3 separate regions of the Homo sapiens genome follow, and all the other regions are linked to region 3. Evidence: fine-mapped expression QTL. A gene starts in region 3. Each other region holds a variant in brackets. All regions are shown on one strand. Distances are from middle to middle.

Region 1 (8,179 bases), 240 kb after region 3:
CAATCACCTGAAAATCGCCCGGCCAGAGCCCCACCCAGGTGACTTCAACCAGTCCTGGGGTAGGATCCAGGTGTGGGTATTTTTTAAACTCCCCAAGTTAAGTTATTGTCATGATACAGCTATTGACCATGACTGGTAAGAGTTGTTGATTCAGTGAATGAAAGTGTGTTTAATTTTTTTTTTTTTCTGAGACGGAGTTTTGCTCTTGTTGCCCAGGCTGGAGTGCAATGGTGTGATCTCGGCTCACCGCAATCTCCGCCTCCCGAGTTCAAGCGATTCTTGTGCCTCAGCCTCCCAAGTAGCTGGAATCACAGGCATGCACCACTATGCCCGGTTAATTTTGTACTTTTAGTAGAGATGGGGGTTTCTCCATATTGGTCAGGTTGGTCTCGAATTCCCTACCTCAGGTGATCCGCCTGCCTTGGCCTCCCAAAGTGCTGGGATTACAGGCGTGAGCCACGGCGCCCAGCCTTAAATTGTAATCAAATAGCACTTTTCAAAAAGCTAACTATAGACAAGAAGGTGCTGGGTCCCAGAATGTGAAAGTACAGGAGGCTTAAGTTAAACATCGACGGCCCCTGAGCCCTGCCTTTCCACCAACAAACCAGCCAGGCTCCCAAGAAAAAAAGATGCCCCTTTGTTACATGAGATGAACATCTTAGACTGATCTATTAATGAAATAAATGTACAATTTGAGACTAAACAGCTGGACAGGAAGATGGGATGGGTCTGACTTCAGACACTATTGGCTGGTGCAGGAGCAGGAGGGAGGCAGAGTGGCGGTCTGTGCCCACTCGTGCGTTCATTTGTGACTATTATACAAGTAGTAGCACTCCAACATTTATAGTGTAGCCTCGGAATTATGCAGAATATATTTGCAATCTATTTTTGGTGGCAGAACTGGAAATAGAAATTTAAAAACCTGAGAGAGAGAGAGAGAAGAAAAGGAGGTGGGAAGAGCAGGAGCTTCATATTCCAGGTGGAAAGTTGAAGTCATGAAACCAGACAAATCTCTCTTTCTTTCCTCTAATTAATTAAAGGTTGTAAAGTCAGGGTGTGGGCTGGGTGTATTCCCTTTATTTTTTAAAACCATGTTTGACAGCTCCAGGCTCCCAGGATTTCATCAGGATCTCAGGTGCGCTGCAATTCATGTGTCATGCACCGGGTTGCGTAACTGCATTGTTACACGGGCAGCGTTTCTCTATGGAGTCCATTTGCATCATCTCATCAGGAGAGAGGAAAGCCCACAGCACCATCTTGCCCTTAAGGAAAAGGTGCAATTTCTTTCATGTTTTAAAGTAATCGCCTGAAAGATAAAAATACAAAAAGAAAAAAGTAAAAAACACCCATAGTGCCCACCAGTTAACAATGTTTAACAGCACGCTTCACCTTGCCTTTCCTATTTTGAGCATGGCGGCAAAACAGAAAGATTCTGGTCATGGACTTTGGACACAAGTTGCCTGACTTCAGAATTCAACTTAGGTTGGTCGCTTGCCTCAGTTTCCTGATCTGTGAATTGGAGATAACAGTGGTAACCCAGTTGAGGATTAAGTGCATGACTACAGTATCTGAAAGGTGCCGTGTCTGGCCCTGATAGGACACAGTACTGCTATCCTCACTACCATGACGACTCCTGACTTCTTCCTGTACTTACAAAAGACACATGCACACACACACATGCATAGACACAAACAGGAACACACGCACCATGCACCCACATTCCAACAAGTCAATGCTTGTGCTCATTTGCACACACACACAAACATGTACATACCTGTGAACACACACATACTTTTTTCCACAAACAATAACGTACTTACTCTACGTAGAGGTCTGCAGCTGCACACACATCACAACATGTCATGGATATTTCTTCCAGTCAGCAACCATACACTTTCCAGCAAGGGTGCCATTCTTATTAGCTGTTCCTCCCTGGATGGTTGGGGTTGTCCTGAGCCTTCACTGTGACCCAGACTTACCGCTGCAGGGCTTGCTGTGTGTTGGGGATGCAGAGTTTTAACTTTCTCAGATACTGTCAAATCGCTGTCCCAAATCCACGCCACTTTGCACACCTCCTGGAGGGCCTCTCTCTACGTCCTGGTCAGGAGTGCACGTGGATGCTGGACTCTACCAATCGGATCATTGAGAAATGCTCTCTCATTAATTTGGATTTCTGTAATTATTATTTATGCAAAGACTTCTAATACATCTTGCGCAGCCTGTAAGCACCATCGTGAACAATGTCAATCTATTCTTGGCCTGCACAGTTTGTTTTATAGCTTTGCTACAAACAAAAACTGTACAGACAACCCACAGCTCACTCAGACCAGTAATGTGCCAAATTAGCTCATGAGGCGAAGAGGAGTTCTAAACGTGGAACACTGTTTCCAGTTGCAATATGTTGGAAATGCCCATCCTCATCCTACCAAGCAAATAATTCAGCATCTAGTCATTCATTCAAAAATTGTTTCCTGAGCACCTGTCTGTGTCAGGCTTATACTGATTATAGGCTTTTGAGTGGCATCAGTAAACACAAATTTTTAAAAATCCCTGTCCTTGTGGAATTTATGGTCTATCCCAAATCTTATCTGAATGTGGGCACCTGAGATGAGGACCCCACAGCATATGGTGGCCGCTGCGTGTGGGAGTCCATAATGGCTATGGACCCACTTGGTGTCCCACTGCAGCTGTGACCAAGGCCACTCAGGGTGGGTGGGCAGACAGTGCCCCTAGGACCATGGGACAGGATCAGCAGAGAGTGTCTCATGGCCCTAGAGCAGTTCCTTACACAGATGGGAAAAAGGAAGCCCAAGGGTGCCTGCCTGCCCACGGCTCCTGGGAAGCCCACCTTCCTGCCTTCCTCCACGGGAAGGTCTGAGGAGCCCTGTCAGGCCCCCACTGTTCCCCGGCACCCATGCACTGAGGTCCCGCTCTGGGGCTGGTCTCCAGGCCGGTCCCTGCTGAGCCCGGGCTGGGGCAGAGCAGCGAGCAGAGGTGCAGGAAGGGCCCAGGCAGTGGGACCCACTCTGTGCCGGCTGGTGTCTGCCTCTTACTCAAGTTAATGGGACTGGCCCTTGGTTCCCAGTTCCTATTTGAAATATACCAGGAAAGGACTGTGATGCCTTGTCCTTGGCCGAGACTCTTGCCTCTGGACCAAGCAGCCGGCCAAGGGGGGTGGCAGCAGTCACTGGGCCAGCGTGTTTGGGGGGGCTCAGCCTGGACAGGTCACCAGTGGGGTCGCTGAATAGCGTGGCTGAGGGAGGAAAGCATTCCCCAAGTCCTCAGGGGCTTTTCCCTGAAATGGAACCAAGCCATGGATGTCCACAGCACCAGCATGCAGTGGCCATTTGCAGGCCTGTGGCGAGGGCTGACTGAGTGATGGAGCCACTCACAGTGGCACCCCAGCCTCATGGAGCTGGCACCAGGCCTGTGCAGCTAGGGAGTTTCAGACACAGGCCCAACACGGGTGCAGGGCTGTCCTGGAGAGAGGGCTGCTCATTCGGACAGCCAGGCGCACTTCCCCAGGGTGCTGATGGGTGATGTTTGAGTAACAAGTGACCACTGACTCGGTGGCTTAGAACAGCACAGCTTTGTTCTCTTACTGTTCTGGATGCTAGAAGTCTAAAACCAATCTGACTGGGTTAAAGTCAAAGGTGGGCAGGGCTGGTTCTTTCTGGAGGCTCTAGGGGAGAATCCATTTCTTTGCTGTCTTTCTGCTTCTGGGGGCCACCTGCATTCCTTGGCTCTTGTCTCCTTCCTCTGTCTTCAAAGCGCATCGCTGCAGTCTGTGT[T/G]CATCAGTGAGTCACCTCCTGCTCTCTTCTGCTCGGACTGTCTCAGGAGGACCCTTGTGACTACATTGCCCTCCTCCCCCAAATAATTCTGGTCTTCATCACATCTGCAGAGTCCTGTTTGCCATGTAAGGTCACACCCACGGGTTCTGGGGATTAGGATATGAACATATTTGGGGGCCGCTGTCATCCTGGTACGTGGAGAGACACAGAATGTTTCTCTGGGCAGGGGTGTAAAAGATAGGATTTGCAGGCAGAGAGAGCAGTGCCCAGCACCTGTGGCCCACTCTGGGCCAGTGAGTCAGCCCCGACCTGTTTCCAGCCTGGCCCGGCTCTGCACTGGGCAGGTCCGAGTGTGGCTACTCTCTCCAGGAAGTGTGGGTCCCTGTGGGGAATTGCAAACCCACCAGGTTGGCAGGAGCCAGGGACACAGGGCAGGCAGCAATGGTGGGATGGGAAGGCCGACCTTGTGCGTTGCAAGGGTGTCCCCACCTAACCGTGCAGAGCTTGGGCACACAGCATGGGGGTGCTGTGGGGCACTGGCGGCATAGAAGGTAAGGGAGGATGCCCTGATGGGATGCACATGATCTCGGTGGAAGTAGAATGAACAGACCGGGGCGAATGGAGCCGATGTTGGGATCGTAAGAGCCACCAGCCTAAGCCTGGATCCCTCGGAAACGTGTGTGTTGGCTCCTCAGCCAGCTGCGGGTTCAGCTCACGCCTTCCGGTCCTCTTTCTTGCCTGCTCATTGTATGGTCATCTGCAGGGAAGTCTTTCCCTTCTCGGCTCCATGAGGCCCACATCTGCACAAGTGCACCTCTTTGTCCACCCTGATGACTCCCTGCAGCCCCACAGCCCTCTCCTCTGAAGGCCTGTGACACCTCCAGGTGGCAGACAAAGGGGCTGGCTGCTCTGAGGCAGGGGAGGCGGGGTCTCCCCACTGCAGGTGAATACACTTGTTTCCAGATGGCACCAGGTGGTATGAGATGCCCGGGAACCACAGAGTGACCTCCTGTCCTCCACTCTGCGGCTTACTCCATGCTGTGCAACTTGACAAACCTCAGTAACTTTACCTACAAGATGTTGGTTTCAGGGCAACTCTGACACAACCCTACCTTGCTCTCCGTAGGCCTTGGGCTGTGCCCAACAATTCGTCTTCTGTCATAAATGAGGTATCCTCTGTCACAGATGAGGTCCCCTGGGACTGGCCCCTGGGAGCAGCAGGAACTCACCTGCCTCTCCTAAAATGTCCCCAGAGCGGGACTGAGCCCCAGACAGGAGTCCCAGCAAGGCCTGCTGGGGATGAGGGAGGCTCACGGGCAAGTCCTGGTGTCAGGCGGGGCATGTCCACACGTGGGGCCCCACCAACACAGGCCCACATAGGCAGGCTGCCTGTGCGCCTCTGCTCACTCCACACCCTGGACAGCCCAGCCATTTCCATCCTGGGGGTGTTTAGCCCACAGCTGAGAAGGATGGGGGGGTTCTGTGGGCAGGGCCAGGCAGCAGGGCTTGGCACTGTGGGCCGTGTGGGTGGTGTCCGAAGTTTCCAGCCACACCCCAGTGCTGCCCACACCCCTGCTGGCTGCTGAGTTCTGGCGCTGGGGCGTTGTCTCTCTGAGCTGTGCAATACCTGGGACCCCTCCTCTGTTTTCCTGTTCATCCAGACTTCTCATGGCCTGAGCTATGTTTCCCCTGGTTCCCAAATCCATCCAGCTCAGAGTTTCCCTTGCCAAACCACAGAAATAATACACAGCTTGTTTCCTGGCAAACACACCTTCCAGAGCCAGACTCAACTTGCCACAAGATGGGCTTATCATGAAATCAAATCTTAACACTGCCGTTCTCTGGGTTTTTGATCGTCCTCACAAAGGTGGGGAAACTGGAGTTGGCGTGTTTCAGAGCAATGGAAGCAGGCCACAGTCTGTTAACTCTGTAAAATAAAACCTTCTGGGAAACAGAAAATTTACCTGACCACCAGTGGGTGTGTGACCACAGGACTCTGGCTGGGGCTCCTGCCTGCTCACCGTAGAGATTGCAAGGGAACAAACAGTGCATCGTTTCCAGTTTGCATCTGTAGGTAACCACGTTTGAGTGAAGCTGGGAGCTGTCTCAGAAAAACGAAGCTTCTGAGCCAAGCGCGATGAATCCCTGTGCCCTCAGCAGGCCTGCCAGGCACAGCCACGGTGCCCGGCCAGCACCGCCACCACATTCACCGCTGCAAGGAGCTTCCTGGCTCTGCAGCAAGATCACACCCAGGCCTGTGGGCCGTGGCAGCCCTGTTTCCTCATTGCCGTCCCTGGGAGTCCTCTCTCCACCTTTTCATTGTCCCAGCAGGTCAGGCTACCCAGGGATGCCCTGGATTTTGGATCTCCTGGCACACTGACCGAAAACCCTTCTTTTTCCCTCAGAAAACACATTGGAAATGAGAGGGTATGAATCAGATAAGCTTAGGGACATCTCTGAAGTCATTAACATCTATTTTAAGCATCAACTGTGGGGTCTGAGACCCTAAGTATCATCTGTGGCTAATTGTCTGCAGCTTCCCCCAGAAATGACCGCCAAGCCACACTCCAGAGCTGCTGTCCTGGAACAGCCTGTAGGGAAGGAGCAATTTTTTGTAGTTTTTCCCCAATCTGTCTTGGGCCAGTGCTTTTGTAAAACACAGAGGACATGGATTACTGAAACACAGGCACACACTTTGATGCCACAGTCCTGTCAAATTGCCGTGAGAGTTCTGAACACGTACACTTCCTTGCACTCTGTTATCTCATCATGGGGCAGAAACCAGCAGCTCACAAGTGACCTGGTCCACGGACTCTACTGGGAGAGAGCTGGCAGCCCCATACCCTAGATTCTCTGTGTGTTCCTATTTCAGCCATAAACAACCTTCTTATTGTTCTTTTTGTTTGACAGACAGAGTCTCCCCTCTGTCGCCCAGGCTGGAGTGCAGTGATGGAATCTTGGCTCACTGCAACCTCCACCTCCCAGGTTCAAGCAATTCTCCTGCCTCAGCCTCCCAAGTACCTGGGATTACAGGTGTGCGCCACCACGCCTGGCTGATTTTTGTATTTTTGTAGAGACGGGGTTTCACTATGTTGGCCAGGCTGGTCTCGAACTCCTGACCTCAGGTGATCCATCTGCCTCGGCCTCCCAAAGTGCTGGGATTACAGGTGTGAGGCACCACACCCGGCTGTTATTATTATTATTTTTTTAAATAAACCACAGGTGCTGTCAAACTGCCAGCCAGAAAGTCCTTTGTCAGACCATGCAGCCTGATCTTCAGCCAGAACACTGTCATGGTGGCTCTTCTACAGCCCCTGTGAGCCAGCCTTTTAGGGGCTCCTGATGCAGTTCTTCTGTCCACCGCTCCGCAGTCTTGACTCTTGGGCGTCACGTGAGCTTGCCGATGTTCAGGTGGTCAGAGTCTTTCTTGGGCCTGACTTTTATACACCATGTAACATGCTGATTCCTAATCACTAAATATGTCCTAATCCAACTGTCACAGATATTCTGAGCAGGATGGCCACTTAGCTACAGGGTGGAAACAAAAATGAGGACGTCCGCCAACACAGAAACTGCAGTGCCTTCTTCAAAGATTTCACCTGGACATGCTTGTCAAATTCTGTACAACATGCCACCGAAAATGGCAGAAGCCCATTTTCCTTCTTGTATTTTTCTTTTCTTTTTTTGAGACAAAGCCTCAGTCTGTTGCCCATGCTGGAGTGCAGTGGTGCGATCTTGCCTCACTGCAGCCTCTGCCTCCTGGCTCACTGCAACCTCCACCTCCCGAATTCAAGCGATTCTTATGCCTCAGCCTCCCGAGTAGCTGGGATTACAGGCATGAGTCACCACACCTGGCTAATTTTTGTATTTTTAGTAGAGACAAGAGTTTCACCATGTTGGCCAGGCTGGTCTCAAACTCCCAACCTCAAGTGATCCTCCCGCTTTAGCCTCCCAAAGTGCTGGAATTGCAGGTGTGAGCCACATCACCAGGCTCTTCTTGAATTTTTCTACATCCTTCTTCACCTACAAATCCCTTCCCAACATACATGGTTTTCCCAGGGTCCTAGTTAATATATTTGAATATCTTCCAAACCGATAATTTGGTTTTCTGTGTTTCTTTGTCTAGATTTAGCTTTTCTTTCCTTTTAAAAATTAATTTATTACCAAATTTGGCAAGCTCTTAAAAATACATCGTGGAATGGAGTTTAACATTATTAAGTTGGGAGCTGATTTTGGTTCTCATTGGCTTAAATGAGCCATTTCTTCCACAATGGAGCCTGCATACACTTTGCAACTCTCATAAAAGTATTAATTTGTTAACTTTAGTGTTGTAAAAAAGTTCTTTTTAGTGGAGTGGAGGGGGTTAATGTTTTGTTATCTTTTGATGC
Region 2 (8,179 bases), 230 kb after region 3:
GGGAGGCAACCGCCTACTGGGGGCAAAGCATACAAGGGCTCCAGCCCACACCGCATTTCACATCACGGGAAGGGACTAGAGAGTTGATTGATCCCTTGGCCAATCTCGTGACCAATGTTCTTGCTGCTAGGACTCTTTCCTAGAGGAATATTGGAGAAAATTTTTCCGCTGGGGTCTTATCACCTCATTGGTCCATGCACTACTTCATTTTTGTTCGTGCAGTCTTAGAGAGTCCTGGAGGTTGTCAGGGGCTGAGAACAGACCTCTTAAACCTTATTTGGCCTTTCATAGATTTCATGTGGGGAGGGAGTCCATAGTCCACCCTCTCTCCAGATGTCAGCCACATGGCATCTAAGAACCACAGGAAGTAGGGCTTCCAAGAAGGGACTTCTGGTCTACCCTAGCACGTGGCGTCCCCCAGCAAGGGCCTGGACCAGCCCAGATCAGGGGAGGAGCTCAAGGCACTGTCAGGGAAGTGGGTCAACCATGGAGACAGGGCATTGAGAAGGTGCCAACACCTGTATCAAAACTCTTCTGGAGGCAAGTAACAGACCCAGCTTGAACTGAACGAGTCAGGAAAAGGGACTCCCTGTGCCCAGCCAGGGAGCCACTGGACTGCTGTCTCAGGACTCTGGGAACTCAGTCTTTCTTCTCCCATCTCCCCATCTCCTCTGCTATCCAGCTTCCCCTGTGGTAGGAGGATATGGCCCCTGGCAGCTCCCAGGCTCCCAGCCACAGAGCAGGGTGCTCTTAATTGCCACTCTGCTCAGAGATGTTTGGGGAGGATGAGGGCCCTAGGCCAGGGGGGAGGTGTGGTAATTGGTAGTTGGTAGCCCTCATTAGGACGTCGTGATTGGGGTGGGGTAGAAGCCCACCATACCTGGCTTTCAATTCTAGCAGACGGCTACATGGGTATTACTGGGCTTGTTCTTGTCCCTGTGTCTCTAGGTTATTAGTGCATTTCTTTGTTCACCTTTGGACATGCAGGATGGCCAGACACCCGATGTGTGGCTTGTGGACCCCAGCAAACCACAATGCAAGATTCTCCAAACCCCTATTGCCACCAACTGAGTAAATACGCTTGGCACAAAATGGGCTACTGTCTTCCTGGTGCTGTAAGAGTTGTGTTTAATGAAATACCAAGTCATCATTTGATTCATGTTGGTTGTTTGTCATTTTGTTTTCTCAGAGGAAGACAATTGTCCAGTTACTCTCATGTTGGGCTCCTCAAACTATTTTGAAGTTCATATTCAGAAAAATGGGAGCCCGGCTGGGCACAGTGGCTCACACCTGTAATCCCAGCACTTTGGGAGGCCGAGGCAGGCGGATCACGCAGTTAGGAGATCGAGACCATCCTGGCCAACATAGTGAAACCCCATCTCTACTAACATACAAAAAATTAGCTGGGCGTGGTGGTGCGCACCTGTAGTCCCAGCTACTCGGGAGGCTAAGGCAGGGGAATCGCTTGAACCCGGGAGGCGGAGGTTGCAGTGAGCTGAGATCGTGCTACTGCACTGCAGCTGGGCGACAGAGCAAGCCTCCATCAGAAAGAAAGAAAGAGAGAGAGAGGAAGGAGGGAGGGAGGGAAGGAGAGAGAGAGAAAGAAAAAGAAAAGAAAGAAAGATGGAAATGGGAGCCCCTACTTTTTGTTGCTTGAGGAGCAGTTCTAAGATTTTCTGCTGCAAGTGATCAGGCAACACAAGTGAACTTGTCCTAAACAACAGAGCCTGTTTCTAAATACAACTTCTACAGAAGAGAATACTTGTTTTTCTTTCTTCTGAACAGTTGACACGGCCCCGAAGTTATGTAAGATGAGTTAACCTGCAGCGCTGCCACATGTTCTTGTGAGAAGTTAAACAAGGAGAGGAAAACAGGAGGGAGGAAGCGGTAACTTACCAACTTCCTCCCGTCCGAAGTCCTTGATTCCAACTCTTTCCTTCGAAGAACAGACTTTGTGATAACCTTTACTCTTGATTGCTACGTGACAGCAGTGGCGGGGTGGGGGGTTGTAAATGGCACAGCGGCGGGTGCGGCGAAATTCGGGGTGCGGCCCTAAGCCACACGACTTTCCGCTGCATCGAGAGGGTTGTGCATGTGCTCAGCTGAGCCTCGGTGCTTGGAGCAAGCGTGTGCAACCCCAAGGCCCCCGACCGCGACTCGCTGCTAACATTCTGGCTTCACCGAAAGCCAGTGAGTGGTTAAACACTGACTTCTGACCCCTGCTCCTCCGGCGATCTGTCTTGCCCCTCGCATTCCTGCGGGTCCCGGGCTGGGGGACGCTGCCTACGTGCGGCGGCTGCCCTTGCGCGGCCGAAACGCCGGCTGCTTCCTGGAACGCGGTGCAGATAAGAAGCCGCTGCCGGGCTCGGGTTTCAGAAGCGCGCCACCGCGGGTTACAAAACCCTGTGTCATAATTTCACTTCGGATTTTTTTTTTTTTCTTTCCTAGTGCTGGCTTCCCGCAGAAGGACGTTTTGTGTGTTAGGTCCATGTGTGCGTGTGTATTTCCTTTTGGTAATTATTTTGGAAAACGTTCAGAGGCTAAAAATAGAGAAGCCAGAAGCCTCCTTGCTGCGCGACTCGCGGCCCCAAGCTCTCCAGCGCACAGGGTCCTGCTGAGACACAGCGACGACCACCGTGTGTCCCCGAGTGCCCGAGCCCCGTGCCGGGCCTGGCCGCTGAGGACGCGCTCCCCGCCACCGGCTCATTTTCTCGGTTCTAAAACCTTCAATGCCCGTCGCTAGCAACTTAATCTGCGCTCTAACTCGCAGAATTCTTTTGACCTGTTGGAGAAAAATAGCATTTTAAGATGTGGGTTATTCAAGAGGGTGGAGTCGGCTAAGTTTAGTGGACGCTAAAAATAGCCCAGCGGTGCGGGCGGGTCAGGCCTGGGGGCGCCAGGACCTCCGCCCTCACCCTGCCCCCTACGGGCCTACGAGCCGCAGCCCTCCCAGGGCCTGTGCGTAATTCTAGCCAAGGCCCAGTGTCATTTCCAAGAGGTGCCTCTCGGCCGGGTTACTCATATGTCAGATTCCCATTCTCACGTTGTGTTTCACGCAGCAACTGCATTTCCAAAGAAAAGCGTGAGTCACTACCAAGTGGCTGCAGAGGGAGGGGAGGGCCACCATACACCGGAAGAAAGGGGGGGGGGGAAGGGGCCTTTTTATAGCGTTCTGAGCTGGCTTTCTTTTCCATAGGTTAATTTTTATCTTAACTACCAAACTTAGGCTGGATCGCCTTTTTATAAGAAATCTATTTAAATACAAGGGATTATTTGAACTTCTTTTTAAAAAGCCAAGGGCATTTTTTGTGTGGTTCTCAGCTTATAAATAAAATATATTAATAGTTGTTTAATGGGCATTTAAAATGCCAACTGCCTGTGACTGTTTTTAGTGCATTCTTCAAACACCACTTGGAGACCTGAAACTGCCCCCTCGGTTCAGTCCACAAGGGGACTGCCACCTTGCCATGGGCCAGGTATACCCAGCCCAGCGAGGCCAAGCTCATTGCTCTGAACAGATGGTGATTTTCAAACTGAATGCTATTCTGGTGTACTTATTTAGGAACAAGATCTAAAAATAGACTTGAATGAGCATAACCTGCAAAAATAAGTTGTCAGCTTCTTTTTAC[T/C]CCTGGAGGGTTGAAAACAAAGCTGTCAGCAATTTCTGCGAGCTGAGGAATCTGTATACTTTCTTATTTTAGAGAGAGCTTTTTCAGTGGGACTGTAATTGAGTCCCCTTAAATCTTTGTGTCAACAAATTACCATCTGTTGTTCTAGAGACTCTCAAATTGGTGAGACTCGCTGCTGCTTACTGCCGGGGTGGAGGGGGATGCTATCGTTTGCCCTTGTGGACATGAGCTTTGGAGAGGGAATGGGTGCCGCTGGTATCCGACGTCATTGCAGGAATGAGTCCAGGCTCTGCCAGCCCCCATTACCCAGACCCTGGGGTCTTGTAGAGGTAGTGATTGAGAGATGCCTGGGAGTATGGGCTTGGAGACAGGGGTGGCACTGAGGTGGAGAGGAAACCCCAGCCAGTTTTGGCGGGGCCTCAGGGGAGTCTCAACACCTGTTGGTGGCTGGGGTCATAGTAGCCCAGAGCGCTGGGTTTTGAGTAAATCCATGAAGCGCTCAGCCCTTCTTTATAAGGTACTTGGTGTAGCCTTTGTGGCAGGAAACCACAGGTAATGGGGACAACAGAGGGCCTTTGTCCCCAGTCTGGCACATCCACACCATTTTTCTGTGAAGTGACCGCACGTGCTGACCTAGAGAGAAGTCAGAAATGGAACTGAGCCCTTGTTTCTTCTTGGAGAGGAGTTCCCCTGAATATGGGAAACCGAATGAGGATGGAAATGGCCCCTCTCTCTGGATGGAGGATGGTGTGCAGAGTGGTCCCCAGACTCCGTACCCTTTGGAGGTCAAAAGTCTAGGCCCCAGCAAGCCCTAGACTTGGGATGGCTGGCCCTGGGGCTGCCCATCCCGTCCAGAGAGCTTGCCTGGCTCCCAGCAAGGTTCTGTGCCTTCAAGCAGGGGAAACGGGCTCTGGCCAACAGAAAGTGAAATGAGTGGCATTAAACTCAGCAAAATCAAGTCCTGCAGATCCGCCCCCAGAAAGCCTTTCTCACCCTGGTGTGTTTAATTTTGCAGGTGCGCCTCAACTCCAAACAGCTCTTTTAAAACAATTTGCCCACCAATAGGATTTGCGATTCTGGGGATTAGAAACTTTCTCCATTCAGCATTTACTGTATTTTAACCTCCATGGGAATGCTGTCTCAAAAGAATGGAAACAAATCCTGGTTCCTACTTCCTATGCTCCCAGGAAGCACAGATGTGCACGCATGCGCGCGTACACACACACACACACACACACACACACACACACACACACACAATGTGGAGAAGAGTGATTTCTCCTGGGTTGGGGATGGTGACATATCTGAGGACAGAAAGGAGGAAGAGAGCTGCCCAGGGGCTGGGAGGGGCTCCAGAGCCAGGCAGTGTCTCAGAGGGTTACCTCCACCTTGGGCTCTAGGAACCACCAACTCTCTGCAGTCATCAAAAAGGACAAGGCCGAGGTGCCTGCGAGGTCTGGGCAGATGTCACTGGGGCACTGAGGGGCCTAGAGAAAGTGTTGGCAGCTCCTGCCTTTTCAGTCCCATGGGAAACTGCCCGGCCATCAAATGGTCTTGTGTTAGCTGGTAAATTAACTTAATGTGACCTGTTTGTAAAAGGGGCTGGGGGGTGGGGGGAATTATGTTCATTACGTTTCTCAAGGGCTGAGTTGGGACTGAAGCCCCCACCCCTGCCCCGCAACCTATGCCCATGCATATTCTTTTTAAAGGCAGACATCACTAGATATTGCCAAGAAAAGCCCCAGGTTCCCGAGGAAGCTGCAGTGTGGTCTGGACACCCTTGCTTCCAGCGGGTGACACTGAGGAAGACAGTGGGGAAATGCCATGTGTCTTTCTGACCTAGCAGGATGAATCTCACAGCCCCTTCTTCAGACCAAAAGCACATCAGTGAATCAAAGATTTTTGAATATTTCAAAATAATTTTAAAAGATGCCATCAATAAGTCCAGTTCCTAAATGCATCATCTTTAGAGAAAATGAAATTTTTAAAAGGAATAAAAAGCACATACACAGTGACTGGGCATGGTGGCTCATGCCTGCAGTCCTAGCTACTTGGGAGGTTGAGGCGGGAGGATCATTTGAACCCAGGAGGTTGAGACTTCAGTGAGATATGATGGCACCATTGCCTTCCAGTCTGGGTGACACAGCGAGACCTTGTCTCAAAAAAGAAAAAAGGGGGAAAAAGGGACATAATGCTTCACAAATTAAATGGAACAGGCCAATGAAGCTTTGATGGTCTTTGAACTCTTAAAATAATGACTGTCTTGGCATGGACGGGGCAGGCTGATCCTTGGGCTGCTTGCTGTGGTCCAGAGAGCTTACCACCTGTGCTGGGACTGGGGACTGCTACCTGCCTCAGTGATGTGGTTCTGGAGAGAAAGTGCCTGGCAATGGAGAGAGGCGTGGGAAAAGAACCTGCCTCAGAAGATACAATCATGCTGAGATCCGTACAAAGAAATGAATGGGGATGATAATGATGGTGCGTCAGGGAGGATCCCAGGCTGCAGCCCCTGGTCCTATGCAGGAAGGGTTATGTGTCAATTCTGCTATATGTCAAGCGCCATACATTACAAGAAAGTATCTAGGTTTTGACAAAACAATTTAAATTCTAGGAATTTGCCATAACCCAGTATGTACACAGAGAATGTTAATCTTGGAGTTAGGGGAAGCCTTCGTCAATGGGAAAGATGGGATAAATGCATTAAAGTTCATGCACTCTATGCAGCAATTGAGAATCATGTTGTAGGGGTGTCCATATAATTATCATAGGAAAAAGTTTACTATGTGCTGTTATATTGAAAAAGCAGGTTACAGTTCAGTAAGCACAATATAATCATATTTTCATGTAATAAATATAGTACATGCACCTATTCTAATTTTTCTACAATTGTATTCATTTTCTATTGCTGCTGTAACAAATTACTACAAACTTAGTGATTTCAAACAACACAGATGCATGTATCATTGAGAGTTCTGTAGTTTAGAAGTAAGTGGTTCTCACTGATGAATGTGACGGTGTTGGCAGGGCTGTGTTCCTTGCAGAGGCTGTAGGAGAATTCTCCCCTCATCTCTCTGGCTGCCTTCGGCCACCCTGTCTCGTGGTCCTCACCTCCAGCTCAAAGTAGCAGCAGGAGGTCGAGTTCTTCCCACACCACACCAGACACCCCTGCCTCCTCATCCACAGCTGAGGACCCTGTGGTTACACTGAACACACCTGGGTGATCCAGGATTCTCTCCCCACTTCAGGGTCAGCTGATTAGCAACCAGAATTCCATCGGCCACCTTGACTCCCCCGTGCCACGCAACCTAACATTCACAGGGTCCAGGGATTAGGGCATTGCTATGGTGCTGATGTGTGTCCCCTCCACATCCATGTTGAAATGTGATTCCCAAGGTTGGAGGTAGGGCCTCGTGGGAGGTGTTTGGGTCATGGGGGCAGACTCCTCTCAAGGGACTTGGTGCCCTCCCCACAGTAAGAAGTGAGTTCTCGCTCTGTTAGTTCAGGTGAGATGGAGTTGTTTGAAAGAGTCTGGGACATCCCTGCTCTCTCTCTTGTTCTCTCTCTTGCCATATGACACACCCGCCTCCCCTTTGCCTTCCACCATGATTGTAAGCTTCCTGAGGCCTCACCAGAAGTTGAGCAGATGCTGGTGCCATGCTTCCGGTACAGCCTGCAGAACTATGAGCCAAATAACCCTGTTTTCTTTATAAATTACCCAGCCTCAGGTATTTCTTTATAGCAAGCAAAACAGACTAATACAAGCATGGATATATTTGGGGGCCAGTGTTCTGCTTACCACAACAATATACATGTATTCATTTTAATTAGACAAGAAGAGCTAGGAAAGCCAGAAAGCTCTTGTCATTTTGTATCAATTTTCATTTCAGCATTAACATTCCCCTTCATTTCTGTAACCGTAATTCCCATAATTCTCAGTGTTCTAAATTTACATTAATCCAATCTCATTCACTTCATATCATAGCTTTTCCATTTCTATGTTCTTGATTAATTAGGCAATTTTATTTTACTTTTGTTTTCCTAAAATGTTCTGTATTTCTTGAATCCTGGCAATTTTGAAAATACGTGTCTATTGCCTTTGACTAGAGTAATTAATGACTTACCTGGGTGTCAGATTCTTGGGCACGATTTTTTCCTCTCTGATGATCCTGAGGATCTTTTCTCCTGGCATTAAATATTGCTGGTAAGAAGTCTAGGGATAATTGAGCCCTCTCCCCACAACAGTTCTGTGAAGAATTGTTCATTTGAAGCCACTAAGACTGTTGCAGTAGAAAACTAATATGGTCATGCTGCTGAGGACCCTTTCTGGGATTCCTTAAGCCCAACCATATTCCAGACTGGGTTGAGGTTGTCCAGTCATGCTGTCTCAGCGTGAGATGCAGGCCTCTGCCCCAGACCTGCCCAGCCCTGGGTGGATGCCCAGCTTTGTCTACTGCTCCCACTTCCTTCACAGCTTAGGGAGGGAAAGGACAAAACTATATGGATTTTAGCCCAGAAATGGCTCATCTGTGGGAGAAGGGACCCTTAACACA
Region 3 (8,179 bases):
AAAGGTAGAAAAACTACAAGAAAAGGCAAAGCGGAAGAGGAAGACAGAGGTGAAAGATTAAAAATGGCATGAATAGCAGAAATAAAAGTGCATGAGTGGTGGAAAGAAATATCATTCCAGGAAGTTTCTGCCTCAACAGTCAATGACTCATTGCATCAAAGCCAAAATCCCAGCAAAAAGCACACACTGATGGGCGTGGGGAGGAGAACCTCACTAAGGCTACCATGCTAGCTCACATCTTAAAGCCTCCACTTGAAAACAAAACAGGTCTGGTGCTGTGACTCACACCTGTAATTCCAGCACTTTGGGAGGCCAAGGTGGGAGGATTGCTTGAGCCCAGGAGTTTGAGACCAGCCTGGGCAACATAGAGAGACACTGACTCTAACAAAAAAAAAATTAAAAAATTAGCCAGGCATGGTAGTGTGCACCTGTAATCCCAGCTACTTGGAAGGCTGAGGTTGGAGGTTTGCTTGAGCCTGGGGGGGTCAAGGCTGCAGTGAGCCGTGATCACTCCACTGCCCTCCAGTGTGGGCAAGAGAGCAAGACCCTGTCTCAAAAACAAAAACAACAACAACAACAACAACAACAACAAAAACGGTATGCTATGGATTCCCAGAAACTGAACTTCTGTTCCTGGAGTTTAATAAAAAGACACAAGGTGGTCCATAAACATACTACAGTGGAAAGAAAATGGTCCTGGCACACAGGAGCCCTGATGCAGGCTGCCGGCCACCAGACCAGACAGGAGGTCACCAAAGGGCTTTTAGTTATCGAAGTTTTTTCTACAAAGAAATCCATAAGTCCAATGCACAAAACAGATAGGGTAGAGCTGCCCAATTTGGTTGCCAGGTAGGCAGCCTGCTTTTTAGCCACTGAGTCCCCCGTCTCCACCCCCTGTTCCCAGGACATCTCTGTAGAACTCAGAGGACTCAGACTGTCCAGCCTCTGGGTAGGTAAGTCCTGCAGTCTTTTATTTTTTAATGAATTGCTTGCCTAAACTGAAAATCAGGATATTTTACCAAAAAAAAGAAAGTCAACTTTCTTTTGAATAATTGGAGCTGTGGGCTGTGCAGTCTTTTATTTTTTAATGAATTGCTTGCCTAACCTGAAAATCAGGATATTTTACCAAAAAAAAAAAAGTCAACGTTCTTTTGAGTAATTGGAGCTGTGGGCTCCTGGAAACAGCAATTGATGAGAGAGCTGAAAAACAGTCTTCTTCAGTGGGTCACTTTCTTTTTGCCACAGTCCACGTGTGGCTAACGTCCTGAATTCTCATTATCCATCTGACTTTACAGTTACTCCGGCCTAGTGAGGTCCACTGTAAAATCCCTGGGATATATATATGGCCTCTTGGGGATGTTCCAGCTCAAGACATTCTGCAGCTGTAGAAAAATTATTACTATATTAAATTAAGTTGTTACTAAATTACAAATTCCTATTAATTCCCATTTTAGTAAGGAGAAGTCACTGTTTTAGTCATTCTGTTCTCAAGCTATAGCTCTTATATTTGCTTAGTCAGAAACCATGTTGGCAGTATAATAAAATGAATTAGAATGTGGTTGATTGTCTTCTGCTGGTAGTTCTCATCCCTGTCCAGGCACCTCCTCCCTTGCCCCTGCCCTCAATCCACCCCTAGCACTGAGAGGTTGCTGAGAGCAAGAACCCCTTCCTCCTCCTCCTGAGAACCTTACAGCCCAGCTCCACCATCAGGCACATGCTGATGTCTTCCTAGAAGCCTCCCCACCCTGGTTAATTTGTTTCAAATATCTTAGGTTTTTATGCTCCATTTACTCGAGTTAATCTGCAAATACTTACCTACTCTGTGAATGTTCTAGGATATAATATTAGATACATCATCACTTCGGCCCTGGGGACAGATCCTTCATCCTGTTGTTTAGTGGTGTCCTAATCACCAGGAGGAGCTAAAGAGTTGTTTTCTAAGCTGGTATCTCAGATACCTTTCACACTTCCTCTGATTTCCAAGTTAGATGGTAACAATGAATGATGCACAGATATAATACATACACAATCTAAAATACTCCAAGTAAATATAGGAGCATTCGATTTCAAAATTCAGCATAAAGAATAAGTTTCCAGGTTGAGAGAACTCCTCCAGCATCACTGCCTGGGGTGGCTCCAGGCACGTTCTTTACCTGTCTTGAAGGTCGAGTTGTCTTTAAAGAAAGACATTTACTACAACGGCTTTGAAATTCCATGAAATTATTCAAAATGCAGAACAAGGTCAGAACACGTGAAGGGGAGGGTAGATTATGCAGGACAGCCCTGGATTTCTAGACAATAGCTGCATTTCTGACCCCAAAAAGGCAACTAATATGGATATGATTTTGATTTCATCTAAGAGAGGTTCTCAAAGCTACAAATAAGCATTGTAAGGTTTGGGCAAAAAGGAAACTATCAGTAAATTTGAGAAAAGTGGCCAGGCACAGTGGCATGCGCCTGTAATTCCACTACCAGGGAGGCTGTGGCCGGAGGATCCTTTGAGCCCAGGAGTTCCAGGCCAACCTGGACAACATAGTAAGACCACATCTTGAATTATTATATATGTATGAGAAAAGTGGAAATTATAAACTAAAATCAGGATTTGTTCTCATGAAGGTAGTCAAGTTTGGAAAATGTGTAGTGGAGGGGATGTGGTTCTTGCATTAGTCAGCACCGGGAAGATGGTGTCGGGGAACACGCTAAGCCCATATTGTACGTCTGAGTTTTCAGAGCCTTGTCAGCAGAGCTGTACTACCAGATAAATCACGAACAAGAGTGCGTTCAAAACCACAACGCTGCCCTGGAAGGCTTTCCAAAAACTCAACTGATAGGTGATAAAAATTTTTTAAATATGACTTGCGTTATTATGATATTAACTGTGCAAGAAGGGGAAAGGTAGAAAAGACAATCTTGGCGAGTAGATAGATCTGCTGCTCATGGCAGACACTAGGGATGGTACCTGGGTGTTCACTCTGCTCTTCTCTTTACTTTGGTTTTTGCTTTTTAAAAACGAAAGGAGCAAAAAGAAGTGGAAAGTCGTGGAGGCACTCGGCCCAGCCCCCACGTAGTTCAAGGAGACCAGGAGGGAGCTGGCTGGTGGAGGTCCTGCCCACCTGCCACACTCCGTATTTGGGCAAGCCTGTGAGTCACTGTCGGGAACATGGCTCCCTTCGCCAAGGCCAGCACTGACCACTATCCGTGTATCGGTAAACGCAGGGAGTGTGCCACGTGCCTTGACAGTCTAGCGCGACGACTTAAGAAGTCGCGGCTAGGTGCTCTTTTTTCCATTTTTTTACGTCTCTTCCGTAGCCCGGGAATTTGGGAGAGAAGACTACCGTATCCAGTTAGACGCAGAAATAACACTAAGCAGCTATCAGCTCAAAATCACAGGAAGAGATCCCGCGCGGTCGTCTCAAGCCCCAGCACCAAACGACAGTGGGCGTCCCAGCGGGGGCACCCGAGCGCGGACCTTCACATCCTCCGAGGAACGCCGCACCCGCGTGGCGGGGGTGGGTAGATGGACCTCAGCGAGCCTCGTTTCCCAGTCGTGTTACGCAACAACTTTGCAGCCGTCATCTTCGCCCTAATTGTGCAGGGGGCGGTGTTTGTGCGTGGAGCTTTCCCTCCCGGCTCCGGGCCGTCGCGGCTCTCGGGAGAGGCGCCGGGACATTTTAATCGCTGCCTCCGCCGCGCAGCCCTGCGCAGCTGCCCGGCCGCGCCAACCCCTTCCCCGCCGCAGCGCGCCCCGAGTGTTGGCAGCTTGCCAGCCGCCACCCCCCGCCTTCCCTCCTGCCCACCCCAAGGTAGAGGGCTCCTCTCGGGAGTGTGCGGGGAAGGGGAGGCCGAGGTCCGGGCCACGCCCGGGTAGCCGCAACCCGCAGTGCTCAGTCGGCAACAGGTAGCCCAGCAGGCTGCGGCTCTCAGGAAGACAAAAAGCGCCTCTGCGAGCAAGTGAGGGTCGCGGGGAGCGCAGAGCCACCGCGGCGACCGGGAGGGTGAAGGGAGCCAAGAGCGGACGGGGCGGTGGGACGGGGGGCTCCCGGGCTCCTCCGCAGGCTCGCTCCGGTCGTGTCGGCCGCGTGGGCCGTTGCGCAACACTCGTTGCGCCGGGAATGGGGCGCCAGCCCTCGCGGGCGCTCGGACGGCGGTGGCCCTGGCCGGGGAGGGACGCGAGCTGGTAGTGGCGCCGCCGCGGAGGGGGAGCTGAGGGCGGGGAGGCGGGGCGGGGCCGCGGAGTGCCCGCCCCGGCCCGCCCCTGCCGGCCGCGGCCATTGGCGGCGGGCCGGGGGCGGGTGCGGGCGCGGCGATTGGGGCCGCGGCCGCCAGTCACGCGGGGCTGGCGGGCGGCGACGTAGCGCGGCGCTCGGAACTGACCTACTAACACACATCTCTCCGCGCGGCCACGGCGCCCGCGGACCCGGCGCGCCCGCCCGCCTCCCGCGCCGCGCCCTCGCCGCCGCCCGCCTCCCGCCGCGGCCCCGGAGGCCCGGCCCGGCCCGAGCCCCGAGCGCCGGCGGCCCGACTCCCGGCCGCCCCTTTCTTTCTCCTCGCCGGCCCGAGAGCAGGAACACGGTAAGCGCTCCGCCCACCGCCGGCCGGGGGCCCGGCGACCGCTCCCAGGGCGCGCTGCGGGCGGGCGGGCGGGCGCGGGGTGCGGGCCGCGCTGTGTGCGGGGTCGGGCTGTAAGCTGGGCTCGCCAGCGGCGGCGAGTGCGCGCGGGGCATTCATTACATAAACTTTTGCTGCCTTGTCAGGATGGGACTCGCCACCTTAAGGTGGCTGCTTTGATTGCAGCGCCTTCGCGCCGGCACGTAGTCCTGGCTGGTTTGCGCTCTCCCCCCGCTGCTGTTGCATAATGTCTCCTGATTTCAGGAAAATTGATGTTTTGGTAAAGAAGAGCGCCAGGCAGGCTGAGCCCTCTCCGAGCGGGAAGATGCTCTTTCCTCTCTAGTGTCTTTCTTTCTCGTTCCTTCTCTGGGGCTGGCGGCGTAGGGGGGAGAGGAATGGGGGGTTGAGGAATGGGGAATAGTCTTAATTTGCTTGGTGAGAAAAAGGGTTGGTAGCGTGAACGGTGACGGCATTCGGAGAATGCCTGCGCGGCGTTTGTTTGTGTCAGGGGCTGTGTCTGCACAGACGTTTTCCACCCTGTTTGTCGTCAGCGTGTTTTACAAGCCCTCGGGAAGGTTGTGGGATTTGTCCTTTCATACATTGCATAATCTGCCCACGGTGAAATGTTGGCAAGAATTGCGGGCTGATGTGGGAATATGCGCGTATGTGTGCAATGATTTGGTAATTGAGGCGCAGCGTTGGATATTAGATCGTTATTTACGTCTATATTACGTCCCAAATAAACAGGTTTTAAAACGATACTACAAAACCTAAAAGCAAGAATTGCTCGCATTGAATTCTGATCTTGGGTACTACTGGGGTTCGCCCTTTCAATGTTCTCAGCTGTTATTTTTAAATCTGGGACGAACCATTGTGACGTTTACCTCCCCACCTTCCTAATTTTAATGCATTCCATTCGATCAGCCCTTTTTCTCACCTTATTGTCATTGCTTTTTCAGACACGACAAGACAAATCACATAATAGTTTCCTGGAAATGTTGCATTATGTAACTGCCGAATTTGCTGGCAGTGAGCATAGAGAGAGGGAGCTAATTACGTGATTTTATAATCTTGCTACAAAGAAAGTAGGACAGTCTCAGCCTTTAAGAATGTCACTATAACAGTTTTTTTTTTTTCCTTAAGGATATTTTAAACAGGAAAGTAGACAACCGGGTAAGCATGGAGTTTGCTCATGCTGCCGAATGTGTGTCTTTTGCCCTAAATGAAACGCACGTTCTTCTAAATTTAGCCCTATCACATTTTAACAATTGTGGCCTCGCAGTGCTATTTCTGGTGTTTTCTCCAGGGCTGTGTGCAAATACAAGTTCAAGGCCATTTGCTGTAGTTTTAACTCCACGCCTTCGGAGACCTTTGATAAGATTGTATTTTTAGGAAGGCATTTCGCAGCGCCCGGTGATTTGCTGGATGCTGGCTCCCATTTATGTTTTTAAAGGACACTTTAGGAAACTGCTGTTCTCTGAGAACAGCAGGGAATGGCCAAGTGTCATCTTCTGTTCTTGGCTTTTGTAAATAACAACAGTAAGTGAGGTCAGAAGTATTTATTTACCCCCAGACCAGATATGACCTATGGGAAACAGATATAGGTTAGTAGATTGTTTTTTTGTCTGGATACCCTGGTTTTACTTATGTGAAGATGTGTGAATATGTAATTTACCCAAATATTAAATTTCTTCCTGGACTGTTACATAGTGATTATGTGTGAATATATGTATATGATGGGATGTATATATAACGTAACATTTAAATTAAGTGCAGGGTTTTTTTTTGTGGGAGGTGGGGGGTGGACGTCTCTGGAACAGAGTATATTACCCCAAATAATTGCAGTCGCTTTCCAAGAAGCTAGTTGCTCTAGGCCCCCAGCTTCAGACCCCGACCTACTTTGCGAGCTCGGGTGGGAGTCCCAGGCCTGTAGGGGCCGCGTGGCGCCACCTTCCGATCGCGATCTCCAATGGCGAGTCCGTGCGGCCCCCAGTGCGCCGCTCCCTCCTGCGGGCCGGTGGGGTCTGCGAGAATCCGGGGCTGGGGGCGGGTCTGGTAGTGGCGGGCGGGGACCTCGGGTCGGGACCGAGAAGCGCCTCCGAACGGCAGTTATACTGGGGCTGCTCAGTGGCCTGAGCTCCTCCCTGCCCCCTCCCCACATTCCTTTGTTCTGGCGCGGGGGGTCCTCGCGGCGCCGAGGCCCCGCTGCGCCGCCCACCCGGAGGGAGGAGGGTCTCTGGGAGGCGCCGCGTGGGGGCGCGGCCCGTGGAGCCCGGGCGCTAGGGACCGGCCGGGGCCGGCGTACGGGTGCGCTCTGGGTTCGCCCGGGCCGCGGGAGCCAGGGAGCCAGGGAGCCAGGGACCCCGGCTCCCGCACGGGGCAGACAGGGGCAGCGCGGGCGACCCGGAGCGCCTGCGTCTCCGCGGCCCTCCTTCCAACAGGGCAAATCCAGGGGCCTGACTCCGCGCCTGTTCTGCGGTGAGGTTCAGAAACCTGCAGACACCTTTGTTCCAAGAGTCTTCATTGTATTTCGGAACCAAGCGCGTCTCCATTCTTGAAGTGAAAAAGACCTTAAGAAAAACCTCCAAACGTCCACCGGCCACAGAAATTGGGGGTGGAGGCGCTCCAGTATTGATAGTGATTAAAAGGAAGGCCTCAGCTTGACTTTGGCCAGTTGAGTTGAGCCGATTTTTTTTAACCTTTAATTTATGTGGTCAAAGGCTAGAGGAGAGAGAACACTGATCTCCAGAGTTCAAAATAAAATCTAAACGCCCACATAGACGCTGCTGTCCTACTGTAAAACTACAGTACTTTCATCCTCGCATAAAGACTTCCAAGATTGTACCCATGCAGTAATTCATGGAGACATCACAGATGTTCTCCTGAAGCATATCAACGCAATCTGCTCTTTGTTGAAAACTGACCGAAAACTTGCTTTCTTTGGCATCATACCCTACACCGCTATCCCTAATCAGTTTCCCTCCTGTTACAGGCAGTAGTTAGAGAACAGGTTTCGGTGAGGTACAGATCCTAAGAGCGCAGGCCCTGGGCTCACAAGAACCCTGGGTCCCAGGCCCCAGCTTGTTATCTTCCAACACTGTCCTGATTTCCATCACTCTCCAGGGTAAACTGAGGGAATAAAACCTGTTGACTTAGTTGGTTGTGAGGAGTTCAATAAATGTTTCCTGTGTTATTGATCAGGAACCAGAATCTGTGTGTGTGTGTGTGTGTGTGTGTGTGTGTGTGTGTGTATTTACCTTCATTTTTCTCTTTGTAAATCTCTTCGCAGTAACAGTAAGGATTCGTGTTGGAATTAAGTCTGTAAGATCTTTCTTGAGATACTTTTTTTGTTCTAATAATATATATATTTTTTAATTTGCCATCGTGTTCAATGTTAATTTCAGTTTGAGGGGAATTCCTGACAGGATTGCAGAACCTCAAACTTCCCAAGTCATTGGGTTAATGTTTTGGGGAGCTGCTTGAAGGAATAGAGAGATGAGTCGATTATAGTAGCAGGAATGACGTGACAATTGCCATATTAATAGCTCAGCTTTTTCCAATTCCCTTACAC

What was found. PIP is the estimated chance that this variant, and not a neighbour inherited with it, causes the effect.
Region 1: its variant is fine-mapped to the expression of NFIL3 in fibroblasts (GTEx, PIP above 0.99).
Region 2: its variant is fine-mapped to the expression of NFIL3 in whole blood (GTEx, PIP 0.98).

What each region holds. Positions count from the first base shown.
Region 1 is chr9:91,175,596-91,183,774 of GRCh38, reverse strand. LINC00484 (long intergenic non-protein coding RNA 484) reads right to left here. Exons shown (of 3, transcript NR_135306.1): 3 at 1,013-1,306. Among named protein-coding and RNA genes, the nearest start is that of LINC02937, 16 kb to the right of the region's middle. The variant T/G (reference allele first, on the strand shown) is at 3,792.
Region 2 is chr9:91,187,981-91,196,159 of GRCh38, reverse strand. It overlaps LOC124902208 (a long non-coding RNA gene), which reads right to left and starts at 3,138. Exons shown (of 2, transcript XR_007061660.1): 1 at 3,044-3,138; 2 at 1-2,782. RefSeq lists enhancers at 199-493, 1,450-2,317, 2,221-2,480, 2,899-3,193, 4,160-4,329 and 1 more. The variant T/C (reference allele first, on the strand shown) is at 3,630.
Region 3 is chr9:91,420,033-91,428,211 of GRCh38, reverse strand. It overlaps NFIL3 (nuclear factor, interleukin 3 regulated), which reads left to right and starts at 4,380. Exons shown (of 2, transcript NM_005384.3): 1 at 4,380-4,572. LOC124902209 (a long non-coding RNA gene) reads right to left here and starts at 6,590. Exons shown (of 2, transcript XR_007061661.1): 1 at 6,508-6,590; 2 at 6,153-6,193. It overlaps LOC105376146 (synapsin-1), which reads right to left and starts at 4,179. Exons shown (of 2, transcript NR_188612.1): 1 at 1,816-4,179; 2 at 602-1,382. RefSeq lists silencers at 1,536-1,732, 4,043-4,442.